Regions from separate parts of the Homo sapiens genome. Here region 1 is linked to region 2. The links come from fine-mapping of genetic effects on plasma protein levels. A gene starts in region 2. The other region holds a variant in brackets. All regions are shown on one strand. Distances are between the middles of the regions.

The links. A credible set is the group of variants that fine-mapping cannot tell apart. PIP is the posterior inclusion probability: the model's chance that the variant is causal. Protein levels are from the aptamer-based SomaScan assay of Sun 2018.
Region 1: its variant is the best candidate, but not a certain one, in a credible set for the plasma level of the CFHR5 protein (Sun 2018, PIP 0.76). The variant lies in the coding sequence of CFHR5. If it changes the protein, the assay may bind it differently, which can mimic a change of level.

The regions. Positions count from the first base shown.
Region 1 is chr1:196,995,934-197,008,484 of GRCh38, forward strand. CFHR5 (complement factor H related 5) reads left to right here. Exons shown (of 10, transcript NM_030787.4): 6 at 89-268; 7 at 2,195-2,371; 8 at 6,549-6,731; 9 at 8,728-8,910. Among named protein-coding and RNA genes, the nearest start is that of CFHR5, 25 kb to the left of the region's middle. The variant G/A (reference allele first, on the strand shown) is at 2,291.
Region 2 is chr1:196,968,703-196,981,643 of GRCh38, forward strand. It overlaps CFHR5 (complement factor H related 5), which reads left to right and starts at 8,854. Exons shown (of 10, transcript NM_030787.4): 1 at 8,854-9,020. The coding sequence starts at 8,963.

The sequences.
Region 1 (12,551 bases), 27 kb after region 2:
CTATTACTTTGCACTTATATATAAATACACATGTAAACAGATTTAAAATATTTTCAGAGTAAGCACTCATTTTATTACATTTTCTTAGAACAAGTGAAAACATGTGGATACATACCTGAACTCGAGTACGGTTATGTTCAGCCGTCTGTCCCTCCCTATCAACATGGAGTTTCAGTCGAGGTGAATTGCAGAAATGAATATGCAATGATTGGAAATAACATGATTACCTGTATTAATGGAATATGGACAGAGCTTCCTATGTGTGTTGGTGAGAAAACATTCCTAAACTTTATATTTGATTATTTATCATTTTGATTGGGATTGTATAAAGTGTATAAATCTGGCTAGAATTACAATTTTATTGATACTGACTCTTCCTTCCACAAGTAAAATATGTCAATCCATTTATTCAGGTCTTACATTAAACTTTACCATATGGTTTTATGAATTTCTTGTTATTACTGCACAGATTTCTTCACCAATTTATTTGGGATTTTTCTGGCATGATGAATGGAAACTTTTATTAATGTATATGCTTGAATAGTTATACTTTCTATATGCAAGAATGTGATTTAATTGCATACATTATTTTTGTTTCCAGTAACCTTGTTGAATTTCTGTATTAGTTCTAATATTTAATTGGGATATTGTATTTCTACAAATGATGGCGATTTAATTTCTTTTATTTCATTGCTTTAACTTAGTCTTTACCTCAGCATGTTCCAGATAGAACAACCTAAAAAATAGCAATGTAGCTTGAGTTCTATTAAATTCCAGAGTGTTTGGAATCCCTTCATAGAAGAAGAGTAGGGGACTAGGACCCAGGAACTAGGCATGATCCTTGCTCTTTCTGGTCCCATAATTCTCTTATTTCTATTCCTAATTATCTACTTAGTTTGTCGGTTTCCTCCACAGAAGTAGTAAGTAGTAAGTAGTAAGTAAGTAGTAAGTAGTAAGTAGTAGTAGTCTATCAGCCTGTGTGCTCTACTCTTACCTTGCAGCCTCAGGACTTCCAGCCTTGACACTTAAGTACTTGCAGGTATTTTTTTTCCCGACACCCTCAGATCCTGGCCTCTTTTGTCCTATCTCTAGCAACCTCAATACATTAAAGCCTCTAATTTTGAACTTTAAAGACAAGCAGACTTTCCGCCGCTGTTCTCCTCCTTACAGAAACTGAAACAGAACCGCCTCTCTCTCCATCTCCTGGACTTTTGGATAATCAACTGGCCCACTCATTGCTGGGAAAAATTACTGTAGGTGTTGCCAGCCGTTGTCCCAGCAAATACCTGGTCAGTGGCCATCCGTGATGACCTATTGTGAGGGAATGTTTTCCACTACCAGGAGCCAGAACGCTGTTATGGGAAGATGTAGATCATATATCTTCATGGTCATCAACTTTTATGCAAGGAGTACATAAATATCAACCTCTAGCCCCATATGGGGTGAATTAAAAATAGAAACTATTGCAGAAAACACCTGTAAGCATAGAAGTAGCAGAGCACACTCCATGTCTCATTATCCCATCCTTTTACACACTAAGGAAAAGGCTCCATAACTATCTACATGTTTATGGGAAACGGGAAAAAAATGTAACAATGAGAACTACTTAGACAAGCAAGAGGCTTAGTAGGAATTTATGTTCTGAAGCTCAGTTGTGTTATTATCAGTGAGTTCTTCCCCTGAGAATACTCTGACTTACTGAGTCAGAGTTTTTGCTGAGCTTTTGAAATGTGAGTCATTGAACCTCAAGGGGGACCCAGATCTATCTCTTACTGATGCTTTGCTTCCTGCAGACTTACCCATGTATTGCCTCTTTTTATTATTTAAATGTTTTGAAGATATTTAAGATAGTTTAGTGCAAAACAATCATACATGTGTACATTTTCAGAGCCTCTAACAATTCATTTGTAGCTTCCTAAGAACTATCTTTCAGTCAAAACTCCCACTAGGAAAACCTATCTTGCACTTTCATTTCCCAGAAAACTTTCTGACCTACTTTCCTGTCATTCAAAGATGGGATACAGTTTTTTGTTTTATTTTTTCTTTTTCCAACAGCATTGTCTATTTTGTGCAATGAGATTAAGAATAAGTTTTGTGATGTTGCTTAAAAGCATCAAACATAATTATGCTATTAATATTGCAGATATTTTATTGACATAATTGTTTAGTTTCTATTTAATATTATTTTTTATAGCAACACACCAACTTAAGAGGTGCAAAATAGCAGGAGTTAATATAAAAACATTACTCAAGCTATCTGGGAAAGAATTTAATCATAATTCTAGAATAC[G/A]TTACAGATGTTCAGACATCTTCAGATACAGGCACTCAGTCTGTATAAACGGGAAATGGAATCCTGAAGTAGACTGCACAGGTAAGATTTGTTTAAAACATTTTGTTGATCTTGTTGCTTCTTTACAAGAAAAATTATTTTGAAATTAGAATGTTTTTAAATTAAATATTTATTGTGGCATATAATTTCTATGCTAATAGTAAAGTAGAAACTAGTTATAATACTCTTTCCAGACAAATGTTATTCTTTAAAAGCCTTGGCTTTCTGGTAAAGATGAGAGAGTAAAGCTGTTTTTACTCTATTACAGTCTCACAAAACCTTGAAAGAAAAAAAGAAATAAAGAACTGTAAAAAAAGAACAAAACTTAATCTTCAATGACATTAAGAAACAATTAAAACCCCAATTATGCACTGTGAAACAAAACTAACAGATATTGCCAATTCTGGACCAGACAGTAGGCTGAGTAAAAAGTAGGCTGAGAAAGAAAATATATTTGAGTAATCAATTATTTCCCTAAGAAAAAGTCTCACATTCCTCGAAGGCTTATATTCAAATCATTTACTTTGAGTAATAGGATTATAAATTACAAGTAATTATAAAATGGGGCACCATATTAGATTAAAATAAACCAGAACTAGAGAAAACAAAGTGCTTATAAAGGAATGACAATAAAAGAGAGAAGATAGACTGCAGACTTCTCATCAGCAACGTCAAAAGCCGAAGAAAATAAGGTAATCTCTTCAAAGTGCTTAGTGAAAGTAACTGGCAACCAGTCATTCTATGTACCAATATAATTCACTAATGATTCCAAAATAAAGAAATTTGCAACCACAGGAAGGATAGGAGTTTACACACAAGGTCATAGTTTGAAAGAAATCATATAAAATACACATTAATGATATAAAATACTAATTTATAGCAAAAAGTGTGATGTCATTAGAAATTGTGAGGAAAAATACTGGAATATATTCTTAAACTTAAATACATAAGGATTTCAAAAAGATAAGATAACTACAATTTGTTTAAAGCAACTGGAACATTTTTATGTTTATAAAATATTTGATTTCATTATATATTTTTTCTATTTGAGGAAGAGAAATATTCTGATAGTTGAAAGAAGTTTGAAGCCTTTTATGTGTCCATGAAATGTTTACTTAAATTGGCCAGTCATTCTGCCCAAAATAATTCTCACAACTTCAAATATTAAAGCCCTATAGATGACTTTTTGTAACCACAAACAAATAACATTAAAAGTGTATAAAAAGTTATCCACTTCCTTACCTTTCATTTTGGGTAAGCAAATAATTTACTTCCAAATAACCTAGTGATGTAATGTTTAAAATATTAAGAACTATGTTATAATTACAAGGATACGTAGTAAAACCTATGAGATGCAACCTAAGCAAAATTTAGAATGATGTGGCATTCATAGTCTTAAACTTATCTATTTTGGGAAAAAGTATATATATATATATATATATATATATATATATATATATACACACACACACATATATATACACACACATATGTATATACACACACACATATATGTATATATGTATATATGTGTGTATATATATGTGTGTGTGTGTGTGTGTGTGTATATATATAATATATATGTATATCCTAAAAAGCTAGGGGGAAAATGAATTCAGATATTAGGAGGAAAAGGAAATAATAAAAGTAAAAGCAGAAGAAAATGAAATAGAACCTTGTATTTCCAACTAATCCAAGATATGAAACTAATGTTTTGAAAAGATTAATAAGCAGAGCTGTCTAAATGAGTTGACTCTAATCAAGAATGGTGTGCATACACAAATAAACATTTCTACAACCAAAGAGTAGATGAAAACTGAAATACAGGGAATAATAATATGAGTTCAATTTTTTAAATAAATAAATTACAAGCATAAAGAGAAGGAAAATACTATGAGTCATAGGTATCAAAATAAGGAAGAAGCCTTATTTAAAGTTTTGAGAAGAGCTGGTAGCTAGTAGTCTGGAAATTAGGTAAGAACGTTATTAGGTGGCAAATATTTGTTACACACCTTGCTTGTTCTTGAGAAAAATAATAAAATTTCTCATTTTATGCATCAGAAATACATGGCTTCAAGAAGTTATTTGGTCAAAATCAAGACTGGAACTTGTTTCCAGATTTTTATATCAGTGCTGTTTCAACTAGACTCTGTCTTTACTAGACAGAAATTTCTAAACAGATGTCCAATTCTAAAAGGAAAGTAAGGTGGGCAACTGAGATCATTATGTGTAATGTTCTTTTTACCTAAAATATAAAAACAATAGTATATGTGTGATATTTGAATATCTAACTCACTTAGTTGGGACTTTGTTGATGAAATTCTCATTATTATTTGTACATTTGAGATTACAGACACCTTCAGCTTCCCTATTTCCTGGCACTGGGACATCTAGGAGGCTCATAGCAGGTAACTGCTGAGTCCCTAGATTGGCAGCACAGGCCTTGAGGCTCATTCAAAAGAGTCTTGATGATACTCAATAAGTATTCATCTTTGTGACTATGTATTTAAATAAAAATACTTAAACCACCAAACAGAAATTCATAAACAACAAAAATGTTTAGTTTCCAAAATGTTTACAAAATACCTAAACAAAGAGGTAATAAGACATTAAGTAGAAGAGCTTCTAAATAATAAATAATATTGAAAACTGACCCATCTATCTATCAAATGTGCCTGATATCCTCTTTTCATGTGCTTCTCATAGACTTTCTTCAAACTCATGACCAAACTTTGCTAATCAAAAATGTATACTAACAATAATAATATCAGGCTAATTTTATTTTCTTTTGCAGTTAATTACTGAAACAACACTGATCACAAAAGACTGGTCTTGTTAATGGTTGACTAGAATAAGATGCATCTGGAACTAAGTACTTTAAGTTCACGCTTTTCTTAAACCAGTAAATAAGTAGGACGAGTCATATAAAACATAAAATACGCATCAGTGGGCCCCAGTCCCAGATATCTATCTAGATTTCCACAGGAACAGTTTCTGTTTAGATTTGCACTATTTTGCCTTTCTGACCTTGAAAAAATAAGGAAAAATCCAGTATAAAATTCCTATTTTAGACAATATGTATGTTTTGGCTTATTTTATACTGACCTCAGGTTCTGTTCAAATAATTTATTAAAGATCTGTTGTATATAATTATTATATTTTTTAATCTAGCTAAACCAGGAAAGAGTAGATATGCACTCTTCTGTCTTGATTTTTAAATGAAAATAGTATAGCGAGGAAAAAAAATAGCACTTTCAATGCAATAATTTTTTTTTTCACTGAATATGTTTTTTTTAATTATTGTTATACTTTAAGTTTTAGGGTACATGTGCACAACGTGCAGGTTTGTTACAAATGTATACATGTGTCATGTTGGTGTGCTGCACCCATTAACTCGTCATTTAGCATTAGATATATCTCCTAATGCTATCCCTCCCCCCTCCCCCCACCCCACAACAGCCCCCGGTGTGTGATGTTCCCCTTCCTGTGTCCATGTGTTCTCATTGTTCAATTCCCACCATTTTGAAGGGAAGTGTTAGTAGACAGTAGCCACCACTCTGGAAAAACATGAGATGAAGGAGATCACTGTAAGGGCATGAGCCCAGGTCAGGAGGTTTAGAAAACGCTTTGGCATCCAAGTTGACCATTTAAAACTTTTCCCTAAGAATAAGCCAAGCAACCAAAAAAGAATTTAATTCCTAGTCCAACGGAGGCATTCCAGTTATGTTCATTACCAGCCATTCTCATGTTTACAAGAAAATGCAAGTCATGGAAATCCTTTATTGAGATCTAGGGTTCAGTTATTAGGGGAAGTCATAGTTATTTCTGATTGTTGTCATTTTTATTTTTAAATTGTTTAAATTCAATGTACATAACTTTTTGAATCATATGGGTTAGTTAGAAAAAAATTAAAGAAATTTATTTGTAAATTATACAAGAGAATTGACAGGAATAATGAATAGGAGATACAAGAGAGCATCTGAAAAATTTTAAACTAATGGTTATAACAAAAAGAATCGCTTTTTAAACTGTAAACTATAGTGACACAAAAAATATTTGTTATTATAACATTTATATATAGGGAGAGAGAAAGAGAAAGTGATAGAGAGACATAGTGTGTGTGTGTCATTGAATCTTCCATTTTCCTGAAACACTACCCTATTGAGCTGTTTTTACTTAACTTTTATTAATCATATAATTTAATTCCAATATTTTGTAGAAAAAAGGGAACAATTCTGCCCACCGCCACCTCAGATACCTAATGCTCAGAATATGACAACCACAGTGAATTATCAGGATGGAGAAAAAGTAGCTGTTCTCTGTAAAGAAAACTATCTACTTCCAGAAGCAAAAGAAATTGTATGTAAAGATGGACGATGGCAATCATTACCACGCTGTGTTGGTTAGTAGTTTATTTCTAAGTAATTTCACTTAAAAAGAGGTTATTAATCCCCTTTGCTTTATCTAAAGAAAGAAACAAGAACTTATGACTAATCTGTTGCACTGTACCCCAAAGCCTTAAATTGCTAAGTAACCAATTCTGTCATTTAAAAAAGTTTCTCTAAGAGTTATCTCCAACAGTGTTCATAGAAGAAACAAGTTTGAAATTTCTACATCTTCTTAAAAATCTTTTCTATCATATTTTTACTGTACCTTTTCTATGTTTAAATATGTTTAGATATGCAAATACTTACCATCATGTCACAATGGCCTATAGTATTCAGTATGGTAGCATGCTGTACAGGTTTGTGGCCTAGGACAGCAATACCCAACCTTTTTAGCATCAGGGACATGTTTTGTGGAAGACAATTTTTCCATGGACTGAGGAGGTTGGGGGATGGTTTCAGGATGAAACTCCTGTGCCTCAGATCATCAGGCATTAGATTCTCATAAGGAGCATGCAACCTAGGTCCCTTGCATGTGCAGTTCACAATAGGGTTCAAGATCCTATGAGAATCTAGTGCCCTGGTTGATCTGACAGGAGGTAGTAATGCTGGCAGTAATGCTCATTCGCCTGCCTCTCACTTCCTGTCATGCAGCCCGGTTCCTAAGAGGCCACAGAGGGTACTGGTCTGCAGCCAGGGGTTTGGGGACAATAGGAGCAATAGGCTGCACCATATAGCCTAGGTGTGTAGTAGGCAACATTATCTAGGTTTGTGTAGGCTCACTCCATGATGCTCACACAAGGAAAAAAGAGCCTAATGACACATTTCTCAGAATATCTTCTTGTCATTAAGTGCTACATGGCTGCATTTCAAAAGCACATATTTCAAAATATTACTTGACAAAACATCAGATATGGCAAAGAGTGCTTAGAGCTGGACAAGATGCCTGATAATTGAACAATCTATTTATCTAAATAAAAACCATTGGTAATTTTGCCTAGAGATATTTCCATAGGGGGTAAGTAATTGCAGTGTGTTCAAGAAAGAATGTGGGGTGATAAAGTAAGATCATGGAGGATGAGAAACAAGTAAATGTGTTCAAAAGGGAATAGAGAAATGAGGCAGTTACCGGATAGAAGATATGGAGAAAGTGAAATTTTACCTTATTGAATTGTGACATTTTCAGCATGTTTGTAGGTTGGTGAATGATTAAGTGGAAAGGGAGACATTGATGTTACAGAAGAAAGGAGATAATTCATGAAGAAGGATCTTTTACAAGTTTAAAGGTGAAAGAATCTAGTGTCATCATGAAGAAGTCAATCTGAGAAAGCAAGGACAGTAACTCAATGAAACTAGAGGATGTACAAGCAATTTGGGATAGGATTACTTAGTGATTTCATATTTATGTTCTTGGTGATATATAAAGGGAGATCAGTCAGTACAATTGAACGTATTCCAGCCAATCTTAGCATGAAGTTGTTACTTTTTTTAGTTTTCCCCAAAATCTCTTCATTAGCATGAAGTTGAAACATTTATTGATAGGGAAAGATGCCTACAATATTATTTGGTATCAAAAAAGTAAATGCAGAAGAGTGTGTCTGCAATTCATTTTCAGTAAAACTACAAGTTTATGATCATATACTAGTTGGTATATGCTATTTGCATAAAGTAATAATTACCCTGAGACTAGAAACAGTAAGAAAGTTATTTACTTTTACCTTTCCTCTTTAAGTGACAATTGAATATTAAGGGGTGGAGGAGGAACCTAGACCAGAAGTTTACTCACCTGTCTCTCCTGCCTTCAATAAAAAGTATTCCCGGTATTTTATATGAATTTCACTTTAACATGAAAGGAGCTACAATATGTTTTGAATCAGACTTTATGACAGAAATACTGTAATTAATTATTTGAATTTCCAGACACCTTATATTAAAGATATGATACATGATGCTTCATTATATTATTTTGTTTAAACTAACATAATGTCTCAACAAATAAATGCTGTTTTCCAGAGTCTACTGCATATTGTGGGCCCCCTCCATCTATTAACAATGGAGATACCACCTCATTCCCATTATCAGTATATCCTCCAGGGTCAACAGTGACGTACCGTTGCCAGTCCTTCTATAAACTCCAGGGCTCTGTAACTGTAACATGCAGAAATAAACAGTGGTCAGAACCACCAAGATGCCTAGGTGAGTTCTTAATATTCTCTTGGAATCTGAGATTTAATATTTATAGTGTAATTTTTTTGGACTAATTTCATAGAATAACCCTTACTTAAGTTTCATTCAGTCAAAATCTTTCCTGTCAAATGTAAATACATACAAGGAAACATTTGAAAAATTTGCTTTATGCAAAGTGAGAAAAATTTATTTAAAAACTATAAATAAAATTTTAAAGACCTACATGTGATAAGGTGCATTATGAAATTCTGTAGAGTCCAGAGCTATTTATGGGGCCTATTCGCACTCCATTAAATTGTTTCATGTTATAAGCATCTACCTGAGAACTTCTCACAGAGACCCTTTGAAAAACACTGGTCTAGGAAAACTGTCATTTAATACTATATAAGGTTCTACTTGTAAACCTGAAAGCTTTCCCTAGTAGAACACCTAGTTGACTAATACTGACATGGCTTTTTACTTGCATGTTGGCAGAATTTCTAGCAGGAGAGATAGAAAATCTGGAAGAGTTACTGAGCCACTTTCTAAATCTTCACTATCCCTTCTTTTCACCCTATTTTTTTCTACTACAAAATAATGCCAATATACATATTAAGTTTCCACAAATTCATGTGCACTTTGTGGCATTAAAAAAATTAACATCGTAGACTCCTTATGAAAATTTGGAGATTCACTTTTAGGGCTTAAAAGGAGATTCTTTTATCGGTCATGACAAACTAAAAGGGACAAAATACAAAGATATGGGGCGAATTAATAACACCAATTATGGGAAAAGCATGAACGTCAGTTTACTCTATAATAAGTGGAAGAAAACTGGAATTTCCATAAACCCCTCTGTTTTCTGGTGTCCAAAAGAGACACCATGGTAATAAGGATCTGTTCCTGCAACAGTTCTCACTGTTGCCCAATACCTCACAGGGCTAGACCAGAAGTTTGTTATAGTCTTGAAAATTCATCCTTCTGACGATGTCTCTTTCTTCCACCTTCTGTAGTAACAAATTACCCCAATGCCACTATGGCCTATACAGTGCTTCAAACCACTACTCTGTGTGAGCCCCTCTCCCAGGATATCATTAAAATTGTGTGGGAACTGAACTCAGAAAGTGTTGAGTTAGTATAAGGCAGAAGTATCATCTGAACAATTTTGCTAGAATGAAGAAAAACTAGGTTTCAAAGATAACTTCTAGGATTTAACTTGGAGTGATTGATGGATAGACAAAAATGCCATTATCTAATATTTTAAGTACAGCCAAGTTTTAGATGGTCCAATAATTTAAAATTCGCAGAAATTATCATGGCCAGTGATCATAAAATAAATTTCCAAAAGAAAAGTAAGAACAAAATTTGTAACCTAAAAAGTGTGTACCATGTTGACAATCAGAGTTTGTGGGAAGGGCATTCTAGCAAAAAGAAACAGTATTTTGAACAATAACAAACACAAACACACAATCACGAAAACAAACAAGCAAAAAAACCCATCATAGATATCTGGAAAATTCAAGGAAACATGATCTAACTATGAAATGTAAAATAATTTTATTTCCCATGAGATAGGAGATTAAGATTAGACAGCTCTGAAGAAATAATTTTTTCCAGCCAGGCATGGTGGCTCACGCCTGTATTCCCAGCACTTTGGGAGGCCAAGGCAGGAAGAATCACCTGAGGTCGGGAGTTCGAGACTAGCCTGACCAATATGGAGAAACCCCATCTCTACTAAAAATACAAAATTAGACAGGCATGGGTGGCACGTGCCTGTAATCTCAGCTACTCGGGAGGCTGAGGCAGGAGAATCATTTGAACCTGGGAGGTGGAGGTTGCAGTGAGCCGAGATTGCACCATTGCACTCCAGCCTGGGCAACAAGAGTGAAACTCCGTCAAAAAAAAAAAAAGATATAATTTTTTCCAAAACCAGACATAAATTTATTTGGATGGTTCATGGGTATTGAATGAAGTAGGGAGCCATTACATATTTTTAATAGCAGTTTTTTGACATAGCATCTTTTTTTATTTTTATTTTTTCAAGACAAAGTCTTGCTCTGTCACCCAGGCTGGAGCGCAGTGGCGTGATCTCGGCTCATTGCAACCTCCGCCTCCTGGGTTCAAGCGATTCTCCTGCCTCAGCCTCCCGAGTAGTTGGGATTACAGGCACATGCCACCATGCCCGGCTAATTTTTGTATTCTTAGTAGAGACAGGGTTTCACCCTGTTGGCCAGGCTGGTCTTGAACTCTTGACCTCATGATCCACCCGCCTCGGCCTCCCAAAGTGCTGTGATTACAGGCGTGAGCCACCACGCCCGGCCCAATGTAGTATTTTTAAATTATCAGTTGACTAAGAACATGTGGTTATTTTACACCGAGAAAACATGCAATATGGGGAAATTGTTTAAGGCCCTGGCAGAGATAGATTAGAGTCTTGACTAGTAGGTAAAAAACAGGAACCAAATGAAAGAGGGGTTAAAGATAACTTCAAAATTTCTCGATTTATGGAGAATATTCTCAGGTGCTTAACACATAAGAATTTTTACAAATCAATCAAAATTCAGTATAAAAATTATGTAAGGTACATAAACAGAAAATGAAAAACATATGGCAAACATGAAAGAATGCTTGTCTACACGAACATAAAATTTCAGTGAAGTGTCAATGTTCAACTAGGAGATCGGCAAAAAGAAAAAAGTATATAACATAAAGACTTGGCAAGGATGTGGAGAGTTAAGCACTCTAATATACATACAAGTGTATAATTACATATACATGTGTGTATATGTAATATAAATATATTACATATTACATATATTTTTAACATATATGTATACACATATACATATGTAACATATCTAAATATACATAAGTATGTATGTATAATATATGTATACTTATATACACATGATACATATACATACAATATATGTATACATATAATATACATATAATATGTTATGTATAATATATTATATTATACATTATATATAATCCATATATTATACATAATATACCGATATATATTTATACATTAGATATAAATTGATTACATTACATTAGATATAAATTGTATGTAACATGTATACAATTAACGTACATATATTACAATTAACATACATATAAATGTATGTTATATATACACATTATATTATGTATTATGTATTATATATTATATATAAGATATATATAAATATATATATAAAGTGCTGATTTTAAGAAAGAGTGAGTGATATCTGGGGTCAGGGAAGAAGATAACATTGTTTTTTCTACAGAAATCAAGGTTTCACAAAGTTAAGATTCACAAATAATTACATTATAAAAAGGGATATCTAAACAAACAACATTCATGCTGGTAGAATTTTTAGTAAAGTATAGCAATTAAGAGCTCAGGTTCTGAACTCATACTGGCAGGATGCATATTCTGGCTCAAAACACTCACTAAACTGTGTAGCCTTGAGAAAATCTCTTAGCATTTATTTCCTCATATGTAGCCCATACACAGTGCTAAGAACAGTACCAAGAATAACTCAATAAATATTATTTTTTAAATAAATATTAATATTTTTCATCATTTTAATTCCAAAATATTCTTAAATGCAATTTCACTATTCTATGAAAGGTAAAGATGTATTATTATTTATTTATTTTATTTTACCATTTCTTCTTTC
Region 2 (12,941 bases):
GTACTGCGGTGGCTCAAGTCAAACCCAGCACTTGGGGAGGCTGAGGCAGGCAGATCATGAGGTCAGGAGATCAAGACCATCCTGGCCAACATGGTGAAGCCGTGTCTCTACTAAAAATACAAAAATTAGCTGGGCATGGTGGTGCGTGCCTGTAGTCCCAGCTACTCAGGAGGCTGAGGCAGGAGAATCACTTGAACCTTGGAGGCAGAGGCTGCAGTGAGCCAAAATCACACCACTACTGCACTTCAGCTTGGGCAACAGAACAAGACTCTGCCTCAAAAAAAACAAAAAACAAAAAACAAAACAAAAAAAACCTTATTAACTGATGAAACACAATGGGCACCAAAAACAGAGAACACAAAACAAACAAAAAAGATGAAAATAAAATGTGTTGTAGTTAGTAACATTATATAGAATTTTAGAAATAATTTAATGTTTGTACTTAATATGTGCATAAATTAATTAATTAAAAGTTTCTGAAGGTTTTTTCTTTTAGACAGGGCCTCATTCTGTTGCCCAGGCTGGAGTGCAGCGGCACGGTCTTGGTTCACTGCAGCCTCCACCTCCCGGGTCCAAGAGATTCTCGTGCCTCAGCATCCTAAGTAGATGGGATTACAGGAGTGCGCTACCAGTCCCGGCTAATTTTTTTATATTTTTAGTAGAGACAGGGACTCGCCATGTTAACCAAGCTGGTCTCAGACTCCTGGCCTCAAGTATTCTGCCCACTTCGGCCTCCCAAAGTATTGAGATTACAGGTGTGAGCCACTGCAACTGGCCTAATTAAAAGTTTAATAGGATTTAGCTTCAGGTCTTTGAAGATTGGTTTTTCTCTTTACTTAAGTAAATATTTCAGATTTGGTCTTTTTATTAGGAAACTTGTTGAAAAAAATTTTCATCCTATCAAATGATATCTTAAAACTGTGATAAACATTAATTGTGGAGTAATGTACATAAACTATGTGTTGACATACAAATTATTTATAGTTCTTTACCATATATTACATTTTTATTTATATATTAATATTTATTTATATGTTGCTTATATGATGTGTTATATCCACACAGATCTATTTTTCTAGAGACAATGCCAATTCTAAATTATTTTCATATTTTGCCATCACAATATATACAAATGTATACACATGTACATACCTATTTTCTATTCATCATAATCCAGTTGTAATTATATCTCGGATTTTTTATTTGGGGTGAGCTTTTGCTTCCTTGTTTTATGATTCTTTGTTCATTCTAAATTTTCTTCACTGAAAGTACATTATGTTTACAGTCAGAAAAATGATAGTATAAAAAACTTACCCAGGCAGTATCTTAGCTGAACTAGCAGGGGCAGACACGGCTCGGCTTTCTGCTAAAAGATTTCATGACAGGCAAAGAAAAGAAAGGAGAACGGAATTGAATAGAGATTTAAAATCTGTACTCTTATCCCAACCTACGTAAATCTTAGGCATGAGAGGACTGCAGTATAAAGCTACTCAGATCCTCTACCTTGATTTTTGTGTTGTTCTGTATTGTTATCTTCTTGGAGACACTTCAAAAGAGTTTACACTTGATTTGACTCCAAAAATGTTATAGTGTCTTCTTTAACAATGATGTTATTAAATACTTTTGCATTCTGGGTTACATATAGTTCTCTGTTTCTTAATCACTAACGACAAGTGGTAATGAGTTAAATGAATAAAATGCATCAATGACATCATTGAAATATAAGCTGTATATTCTTTAATTCAGGATATTTATTTGTTTTTTTCTCCCAAGAGAAATTTGTAGATATGCAGAAATAAAACAAGGACAATTATATGACCAAGATAAATATAAACCAACTTTACCAGTTCACAAGAAAAAAAAACTGTTCTATTACTCCTGTGAATATAGCTTTGTATCTCCTTCAAATCCCCTATAGACTCACGTAACATGCACAGAGAAAGAATGGGTATCAACAGTGAAGTGTCTTAGTAAGTAAATGCCCTGATCATTATCTGCATAAATCATTCGGTGAGTAGAGAGGGATGCCTCAAAAGGGATCTGTGTCTTGACAGGGGCAAGGTCTAAAAGAGCCTGAAGAGATGACAGATGTAGCCCTTATATTATTTGGGAGCATTTTATGAAAATCAAGTGAGAAGGAAAGACGTAAAGCTTTGGGGACTATCTATTCCCCAAATATAATATTTCTATTCATAGAAATATTTGAATTATTTCTAAAATGGACAAAAGCCTTGATACTTGATACCTATTTTCTAATATGTATTTTTGTCAATATGAAAATAAGTATTTCCTAGGAAAATCAAGGAAGAATTAAGTAGAGAGCAATACCATGTTCTTGGGCTAGAATACTCAACAGGATAAATAAATAAATTTTTCTCAAATTGTACTATAGGCTTAACATAATTACTTATTAAAATTTCAAGAGAATTCTTTGTAAATATAGATCATTTCATACTAAATTTATATTAAAATGCACAGGAGTTAGAATGGCTGAAACATTTTTTTAAAATAATAAAGTTGAAAGGATCACACAAATCAAATTTGAGGCCTCAAAATATAGCTACCATATTAAAAACAGTATAGTATTGATGGAGGGATAGACATAAATCAATAGAACAGATACAGAATCCAGAAAAGGTCATATAATTGTCCTTGTTTTATTTCTGCATATCCACAAATTTCTCTTGGGAGAAAAAACAAATAAATATAATATTTCTATTCATAGAAATATTTGTATTATTTCTAAAATGGACAAAAGCCTTGATAGTTGATACCTATTTTCTAATATGTATTTTTGTCAATATGAAAAGAAGTATTCCCTAGGAAAATCAAGGAAGAATTAAATAGAGAGCAATACCATGTTCTTGGGCTAGAATACTCAACAGGATAAATAAATAAATTTTTCTCAAATTGTACTATAGGCTTAACATAATTACTTATTAAAATTTCAACAGAATTCTTTGTAAATATAGATCATTCCATACTAAATTTATATTAAAATGCACAGGAGTTAGAATGGCTGAAACATTTTTTTAAAATAATAAAGTTGAAAGGATCACAAAAATCAAATTTGAGGCCTCAAAATATAGCTACCATATTAGAAACAATATAGTATTGATGGAGGGATAGACATAAATCAATAGAACAGATACAGAATCCAGAAATAGACCCACACAAATATGCTCAAGTAACTTTTAACAAAGATGCACAAATAATTCAATACAGAAAAGATCCTTTTTTTTTTTTTAGTTCAGGGCTACCTGTGCAGGTTTGTTACATAGGTAAACTTGTTTCATGGGAGTTAGTTTTACAGAGTATTCTGTCACCCAGGTATTCAGCCTGGTAGCCATTAGTTATTTTTCCTATTCCTTTCCCTCTTCCCACCCTTCACCGTCCATTAGGCCCCAGTGTGTGTTGTTCCCCTCTATGTGTTCATGTTTTCTCATGATTGAGCTCATACTTAGAAGTGAGAATGTGTGGCATGTGGTTGAGAAAAGTTTCTTTTCAACAAATTGTGTTGGGGACTAGCACTTTCTTAGCCAAAAAATTAATTTTGATTTAATCTCACATATTTTACAAAACCTAACTCCAAATGGTTCCTATATCTAAATGCATAATGTAAAACAATCAAACTTGTAGAGGAAGAGAAAATCTTTGTGATCTGGGGTTTGATGGAATTGTTCTTAAACAGGACACCTAAAGGATGACCCATAAAAGAGTGAAATAATAATAATACTTTATCAACATTAAACACTTTTTATCCATGAAAGACATTCTATGAGAGTGAAAAGATAAGCTACTTATTAGCAAAAAATATTTGCAAATAACGTATCTGACAGAGGACTTATACATGGAATATATAAAGAATGCTCTAAACACAGGTAAAACAATCCAATCAATAAAGGTGCCAAAGCCTTGAACAGATCTAACAAAAAAGATATTCAGATGGAAAATAAACATGTGAAAAGTTATTCAATGTCATTAACCATTAGGGAATACACATTAAAACCACAATGAGATTTACTATGTATCTAATAAAATGCTTTAAAAAAATTAAATGAAACACATTGGTAATAGTAAGTGCAAGTGAAAATGCAATACAATGGATCTCTCATACATTGCTTGTGGAAATGTAAAATGTCATAGCCACTATGGAAAACAGACAATTTCTTATAGAGTTCAATAGCACTTTTCATAAAACCCAGTAATCTCACCCCTGACTGTTTACCATAGGGCAGGAGATGGCAAACTATATCTTAGGAACTAGCTATCTATTTTCTTAATAAAGATGTATTGGATGTGAGCCACACCTTTTTATTTATGTATTGTCTATCATTATTTTGGCTCTATAACTACAAAGTTAGGTAGTTGTGGCAGAGGCCATATGGTTCACAACCTTAAAATACTAAACATATGACCCTTCGAGAACAAGTTTGCTGTTCAAGTAAAACATTGCACAAAATTGTCCATCATAGCTTTATGTGTAATAGCCAAAAAGTAGAAGCAACTCAAATGTCCTCAGATGAGCGAAAGAATAAACAAACATGTTACATCCATACAATGGAGTACTTCACAGCAATTAAAAGAAATGAATTACTTATAATACAACAGCTTGGCTACATTTCAAGGACATTACCCTGTGTGAAAAATATCCAAATCAAAAAGTTGACTTACTGTATAATCCAATTTATATAACACTCAAAATGACTAAATTACAGTTATGTAGAACATACTAGTGATGACTAGCAATGAGGGGTGGGGGAATGTGGGGACCATAAAAGGACAGCACACGGGAGTTTTCTGGAGGTGATAGAATAGTTCTGTATACGACTGAGTAGTTCTACATATGACTGATTGTGGTGATGGTTACATGAGTGCATACATGTTGCAAAATTAATATACCACACAAACACAAACGCAAGTTCATGGGAGAGACCATGAAATTCAGTAAGGTTGGTAGCTGAGTTAGTAGTAGAGCACTAATGTCAATTTCCTGGTCTCAATTATTGTACTATAGATATAAGAGATGCAGGAAGTTATAGTTATTGGAGGAAACTGGGTAAAGGGTACATGGGCATTCTCTGTACTATTTTTATGACTTATTATATGAATCTAAGATTATTTCAAAACAAAAATTATTTGGATTATATAGGCTGGGATGTTTTACTTTTATAGCACTTTTGGGGAAGAGAATTTTCAATATTCAAGAGTTATAACCAATTTCAGCAATTTTTCTTTGAGATACTTAAATCTATCTCAAATTTTATCAGTAATAACTTCTACAAGCCAGTTTCATATGTATTTGAATGCTATAATTTGCCTTTTAACCCTTTCATATTTTTTGTAACAACAAACAGTTTCAGACTTAATTTACTTTCCCTGCACTAAACCTGGAATCCACAAAAAAAAGAGGTCCCAGTTTCCTAGATTTATAATGCTGTGTAAGAAACTTATTGGCATAAAACAGCAATCATTTTATTATACTTAAAGATACTGTTAGGAATTGACGCAGGGCACTGAGGTGATGACTTATAACTGTTCCACAATATTTGAGCCTCAGGTGAAAAGATTTAAATGGGTTAGGACTCAAATAACTGAGATTTGGAATCTGCAAATGTCACTCACCTGTATGACACCTGGGCTATTGCCTGGGCCAACTGGGACTATCAACCAGAAGATTTACATATGGCTTCTGCATACAGATTGAACTTCTTGCCAAATGGCAAAAGGCTTCCAAGATAGTGTCAGAGAGATAGTCTTCCAAAATATAAACCCATAACTCTCTAATATCTAGCAGAGTCACTACCACTGTATTGTATCAACAAAAGCATGCCACTAAAAAGTACAGATTTTCAAAATGAGGGAAATGTGATTCCAAATCTTGATAGGATCATGGCAAAATCACATGGCAGAAGAACAAGTGAGATGAGACACAGTGGAGTGAGCATCTTTCAAAATAAAATTGGCCACAAAATTGAAGACAAAGTTATTTTCTAAACTGCCCTTTTATTTCTTATCAAGTATAGTTTCCTTCTCCTTTTATTTGTTGCTAATGTTTGCAGGAGGGCATAATCTCCTGAAATTACTCAGAACAAGAAACAAACAAAAAAGGGCAATCTAAGTTTCTGAATTAGGAGAAATATTCAGCAAATAAAAAGGAGAATAATTGTTGAGTACTGGGCTTCAAAAAAAATAGACAAGAGAAGATAGTGTTAATTCAACTAAAAATCGGCACTAGCTCTGTGAAAATTAACTCTGTGCTTACAAATAAATAACATCCCCTGGATTCAGACAAACCAATGTTTAAAGGTCACAGAGATTAGAAGAAGCCAACAAAAGACTGAGATGGTGAAGCCTTTGAGACAGAAGAGAAACCAGGAGAATGTGGTGTTCCATAGACCATGTGAAGCAGGTATTTCCAAATGGAAGGGGAAAGTCATGAAATTTTTCTGAGTATTCAGTTTTGACCAATGGATTTGATTAGATTGAAGAAGGCATTGGTGACTGTTACAAGAGGGGTTTAAGCGTAGTGTTGGGAATGAAAAAATGAATTAAAGTAGAGATTGTAGATAACATTGGAGTCATCGTATTATAAAATGAGAAGTGAATTAGATTACTAGAAAGAGATTTGGGTTCTATGAACAATTTTTGAGCTTTTGTTGTTGCTCTTCATGATGAAAGATGTTTGGTATGTTTGCATATTGGTGGAAATAATTTGGAAAATGGAGAAATTAATGATACAGGTGAGAAGGAATAATTGAAAGAGCAAAATCCTTGCACAGAAAAGATGGGATCAAATCTGGTAGAGACCATAACAAGATAGGAGTAAAGATCAACATCCAGTGAAGCAAGAGACAATGCAGAAAAGGATGCGTGTGAACAGCAGGTAGTTTTCTTCTGATTGATTCTATATCTAGATGAAAAAATAAATGAAGTCATTAGCAAAGCACAAAGTGAGGATTGGTGGTTAAGGAGGGAGATAATGAAAACAGGAGAGGGGAAAAGCAGTGTGGAAATTATTTAGGACCGTGTTCATTAATTTAAAGCAAGGCAAGTCAGCACAGTTGCCTTTGTTTTTCTTGTAGACACACTCTGCTGCTTCAATTCAGGCACAGGGCAGGTAGAGAATTTATTTGCAAAGGATTGAGGTTTTCTAAGACTTGGATTACAGATAGAAAGGAACGAATGGGCAGGAGAGTGTGTGCAAGGGACTGACTGACAGTGATGAGCCATGGAATCTAATTTAGATGTGGTGGGAAGAGAGAAAATGAAGGGAAGAGAATAGTGAAAAAGTGTCAGGGTCATTGAATGTTTGGAACAAATTTAGTAGAGTAAGTGAGCTAAAAAGATTGTTGAAATGGTCTAGAGTGTGATGCTTAATATTTAGATACTTTAGGTAGTGTAGTAATTGGAAATGACAAGGTTTAGATAGACTAGAATCAATAGTGGAGACTACTAATAGCTCACAGGGACTTCTCTGGTTTCTTGATTGGACATAGCTATGTGCATTCCCATTGACTTCTGAACCACCATAAGTAAGTTTCCTCTTAGTGAGATCATTAGGCTGTTTCTGTAAATTTCCCCATTAAATGTTAAATTTCTCTCAGGCTGGGCACTTTGTTGCTTGCTTCAGCTAGTATCCTCTAGTCTTCTCTGATTGTTTCCCACTGTAATCTCTTTGTATTCAATAGGATCCTCGGGCATGGACCTTTCCAAGCTATAAAGTCACTCTTCTCCAGCAGGGGAGCAGAGCTTCCAGTCCACATAGCCTGCCTGCCCATCCAGGGTTCAACTTCTGAGCCACGGAATTGGGCTGCGAGACAGAGGTGGATGAAAGCATCCGCTCTCTTTTACTGAATTTTATGGAGACTTTCTGGAAAAAATATTTCCCAACATTATGCTGTTTGGCCAATTTCCAGAGACAACCAATGGTTACTTTTAAATTTTTATCCAGTTTTATTGCTGCCTTTTGGTTGGGAGTGAATATACCAAGACCCTCACATAGCCATTCTCGAAGTCCCACCTGAACAAAATGATTTTGAATTATAATTCTGTTCTTCAAACATTTCAGGAAACGTTACTTGGCAAAAATTATTCTTTTTTTTTTTTTTTTTTTTTTTGAGACAGAGTCTCGCTCTGTCGCCCAGGCTGGAGTGCAGTGGCGCGATCTCCACTCACGGCAAGCTCTGCCTCCCGGTTTTACGCCATTCTCCTGCCTCAGCCTCCCGAGTAGCTGGGACTACAGGCGCCCGCCACCACGCCTGGCTAAATTTTTTTTGTATTTTTCAGTAGAGACGGGTTTCACCGTGTTAGCCAGGATGGTCTCGATCTCCTGACCTTGTGATCCACCCGCCTCGGCCTCCCAAAGTGCTGGGATTACAGGCTTGAGCCATTGCGCCCGGCCAGCAAAAATAATTCTTGATTAGACCTTTTATAGTTTATGAAATATTAAAACTGTTAAGAAGGTACCTAATTCTTAGTGCCAGTTTTAAAAGGGAATTTACAACTACAAAAGTGATATTGTTGTATTAAGATGAGGACTGATGACTTGCACTTGCTTGCCTTTTGAAACAGCTGAACCCTTGGCTAGAAAAAAAAAAAAAACCCAGGGGGCCGGCGGTGGGGAGCTTCCTCTCTCCTCTAAACAGTCCATTTCTGATTGTTCCAAACTCAGAGACTCGGTGACTACAACAAGGAAATTGAACAGCAGTTATTTTGCTTAAATAAATATTACATAACGAGCTGAGAATATTATTGTGAAGACACTGATTAGATACTATTTGCTTATTTCACACAACCCTCCATGAACTTTGATGTTTTCCACAAAGGGCTTTACTAAACTAGCTTCCCCTTAGTACATTGAAATTCAAAGTCATGCTTGTAACTGTTAATGAAAGCAGATTTAAAGCAACACCACCATCACTGGAGTATTTTTAGTTATATACGATTGAGACTACCAAGCATGTTGCTCTTATTCAGTGTAATCCTAATCTCATGGGTATCCACTGTTGGGGGAGAAGGTAAGTTGAAAACAGATCCGAATATTTTAGTTCCTTTTCAAATGTATTTATTGATTGTGTGTGTGTATGCATACAAATATTTTTAAATGAATAAATAGCTGAGGATAATTTGAAGGGGTATCACAATATTCATCTATTTTCTGGAAATATTTTCCAACATGCAATTAGCAGGAAAATTGAATGAAATTAATTCTCTCCGTTCTCTAGTTTGCTAAGGGTAAATGGTCACCAAATAGATAATGTAAAGAGAAATCAAAGGAGAGAAAATCTGCTATAATAAAGATGACAAGGTGAAATATTAGTGTAATTCTGCATAAACTCTGCAATGCCACTGACTAGAAAAATCAACCCCAAAAGATTTGGCCACCTTCATTATGTTTTGAGAATTTTATTTTCATAGATTTGATAATTTACATTTTAAATGTTATTAAAATGAAGGAATTCTCATTTCAGCCTAATTATCATTCAACAGGGAAATATATTTTAATGAAACAATAGAAAATATTATTTTTATATATAAACCAGTGAACTGCCAAAAAATTGTTTCTTCTGAGCTCTTCCACAAATTTCAAAAGTGAAATAATATATCACTTCTTTATTAATACTATAAACTGATTCTTATAACATTATAAACTATCCCATTTTATTTCATGTGGAAATTAAAGCCACTATATCAAAAGGATTGCAAACAAAATCTCTAACAAGGTCTAGGATACTGATTAAACTATGTGTGTACGTGAAGTTTCAATCATTGTGCTATATACTCTTTGATTTCCAGAAAGTTTTTATTTTACTGCTTTACTGCTTTCTAATGTTTACAGATCTTTAAATTTTTTGAACACTTTCTTCTCAGTCCTGACATAAGAGAAAAATATGAACCATAAAATGCTTTCTTTTTAAGATATGCCCTTACAAATGTTGCAAAACATTATTTCTATGGGCCTAAAATTCATTTTATTTTGTTTTCACTTTTAGTACTGAGCTATAATCACAAGAGTGCGATTGCATGAGTGTATTTGATTTTTCTTAAGTCTGTGTTTATGATATTTATTAAGTGGCTTAAACATCTGTTACAAATGGCATTACACAAGGATTTCTAAAGGGGGGTGGAAGCAGAGGAAGATAAGTGAAAATTATGAGGATAATATGTAGAATTTTGACAATTCCTAACCCCACAAAACTTTCAAGCTTCAGTCCAGTCCCAGGATAAACTTTAGTGAAATTCTATTAAAAGTTGTCTAGGTGTTAAATGACCTGTAAGTGTGCATTACACTTTTGTTTTGGTGTCTATTTAGAAACTGGCCAAACAGCAGAAATAACAGACGAAAGCAACACTTTTGTACAAATAGAAAACTGCATGCTTCCAGTAGCAAAACATGAATCAAGCAATATATTGTGCTTCATGCTGTAGCAAAGAAGCTGGAAAGAATATGACAACGCCACCCACCCCTCACTACTACTTAGAGTGTCCTAAAAGAAAAGCAAAATGTAAATAGGCAAATAAATTGCAAGGTTTTATATATAGGTAATTGTCTGTGTGTGTGTGTGTGTGTGTGTGTGTGTGTACACTCATACATCACTTAATGATAGGAAAACGTTCTGAGAAGTGTGTCTATAGGCAATTTCGTCCTCCTGCAAACATCATAGAGTGTACTTACACAAACCTAGATTGTATAGCCTACTACCTAACTAAGCTATACGGCCTGTCACTCCTAGACTGCAAACCTGTACAGCATGTTACTGTACTGAATACTGTGGGCAACTGTAGCACAAATGTAAGAATGTGTTTACCTAAACATATAAAAGGTACAATAAAAATACAATATAAAATATTAAGAATGGCAGACTTGTATAGGGCTCTTACCGTCAATAGGGTTTGCAGGACTGAAAGTTGTTCTGGGTAAGTCACTGAGTGAGTGGTGTGCAAATATGAAGGCTTAGCACATTACCATACACTACTGTAAACTTCATGAACACTGAATACTTGAGCTAGGTAAATTTATTTTATTTATATATTTATTTCAATATTTTGGGGGGAGCAGGTGGTTTTTGGTTACATGGATAAGTTCTTTAGTGCTAATTACTGAGCTTCTGGTGCACCCAGGATAGACTAAATTTATTTTTAAAACTTTTCTTCAATAATAAATTAATTTATGATAAGCTTTCTACTTTATCAACTGAAAATCTTTTAACTTGTAACTCTTTTGTTTTAGCTTAAAACACACCTTGTATAGATGTACAAAATATTTTTTCTTTCTATCCTTATTCTGTAAGATTTTTATCTTTTAAATTATTTATTTATTTACCTTCTACACCTTTTTGTTAAAAGCAGACACAAACACACACATTAACCTCGGCCTACGGAGGGTCAGGATCATCAGTATCACTGTCTTCCTCCTCACTCTTGTTCCACTAGAAGGTCTTTAGGGCAGTAACATGCATGGAGCTGTCCTCTCCTATGATAACAAAGCCTTCTTCTGGAATAGTTCCTGAAGGACCCGCCTGAGGATGTTTTACAGTTATTTTTTTTTAATAAGTAGAAGAAGTGAACTATAAAATAATGATAACAACTATAGTACATTAAATACATTAACCAGTACCATGGTCATTTATTATCATTATCAAGTATTGTGTACTATACATAATTGTGTGTGCTATTGTTTATATGACTGGCAATGCTGTAAGTTTGTTTATACCAGCACTGCCACAAACATGTGAGTAATACATTGGATTATGATGTTGTGGTGGTCATCAGTTGATAGGAATTTTTCAGCTACATTATAATCTTATGGGACCACTGTGATATAAGTGATCAGTCATTGACCAAAACGTCATTATGTGGTAAATGACTGTATGTCTGTATATATACGTGTGTGTGTGTGTGTGTGTGTGTGTGTGTGTGTGTGTATCCCAGAAGAAATATATTCACAGTATTCTATCAGAATGTCGAGACAAGGAAAATTATTTTCTGCTTTTGGAGTGGGTTGTTGTGTAACGGCAGGCTTGCCAAAGGACGATAACACTCCTAGCACCATTGCGGATGTGCACAATGGTTATACGATGAATGTTGTAGAGCAAGTTCTAAAGGATAGGTAGAATACAACTGGATGGTGAGAACTAAGTTATTCTGGATAGCGAAGAATATGTAAGTACATATGCATGAAAATCAAGTACTATAATTTTGCAATTTTCAAAAAGTAAATGATATTTAAAAGGAGTTATGATAGGTTAATACTATCAAGACACGAGGGAGTCTTTCCCTCAGTATCTTCTCCAAAACTATCTAATGTCAATTTTTAAACAGTTAGGTAATAAATTTAAGGTTTCACAAGGTTAAATACCACAAGAATTATTTCAAATATTGTGCAACATTAAATATTACTTCTAGGTAGTTAAAAAAGAGAAATTTCCCTTGATTTGTCAGCTGAATTTCTGCATGCTTTTTCTAAATAAGGTGAAAAACAAAACAATTTCTTATGCAGCAATGCTATATTCAGGAAATATCTTGAGCTAAAAAATGAGCACACTATATTGAGGAAATATCTCGAGCTAAAACAGCATTCAAAGATAAAGTACATCAAATCCATAGAATGTACAATATCAAGAGTAAACCCTAATGTAAACTATGGGCTTTAATGACAATAATACTGATAGTGAAGGGGGCTATTCATGTGGCAGGGAAGAGGAAGTGGTATATAGGAAATCTCTGTACCTTCCACTCAATTTTACAGTAAAAAAACTGTAAATAAAAAATTAAGTCTAATAAAAAATATGTGTATATATAAATATATATATACACAAGAAAAAATAGAGTCAAAACATGAATATTTCACCCATTTTCTACATTGTTTTACCATATCTTGCACCATAGTGCATATGGATGTATGTGTGAGTGTCTATATAAATATATCCAGTAGTATC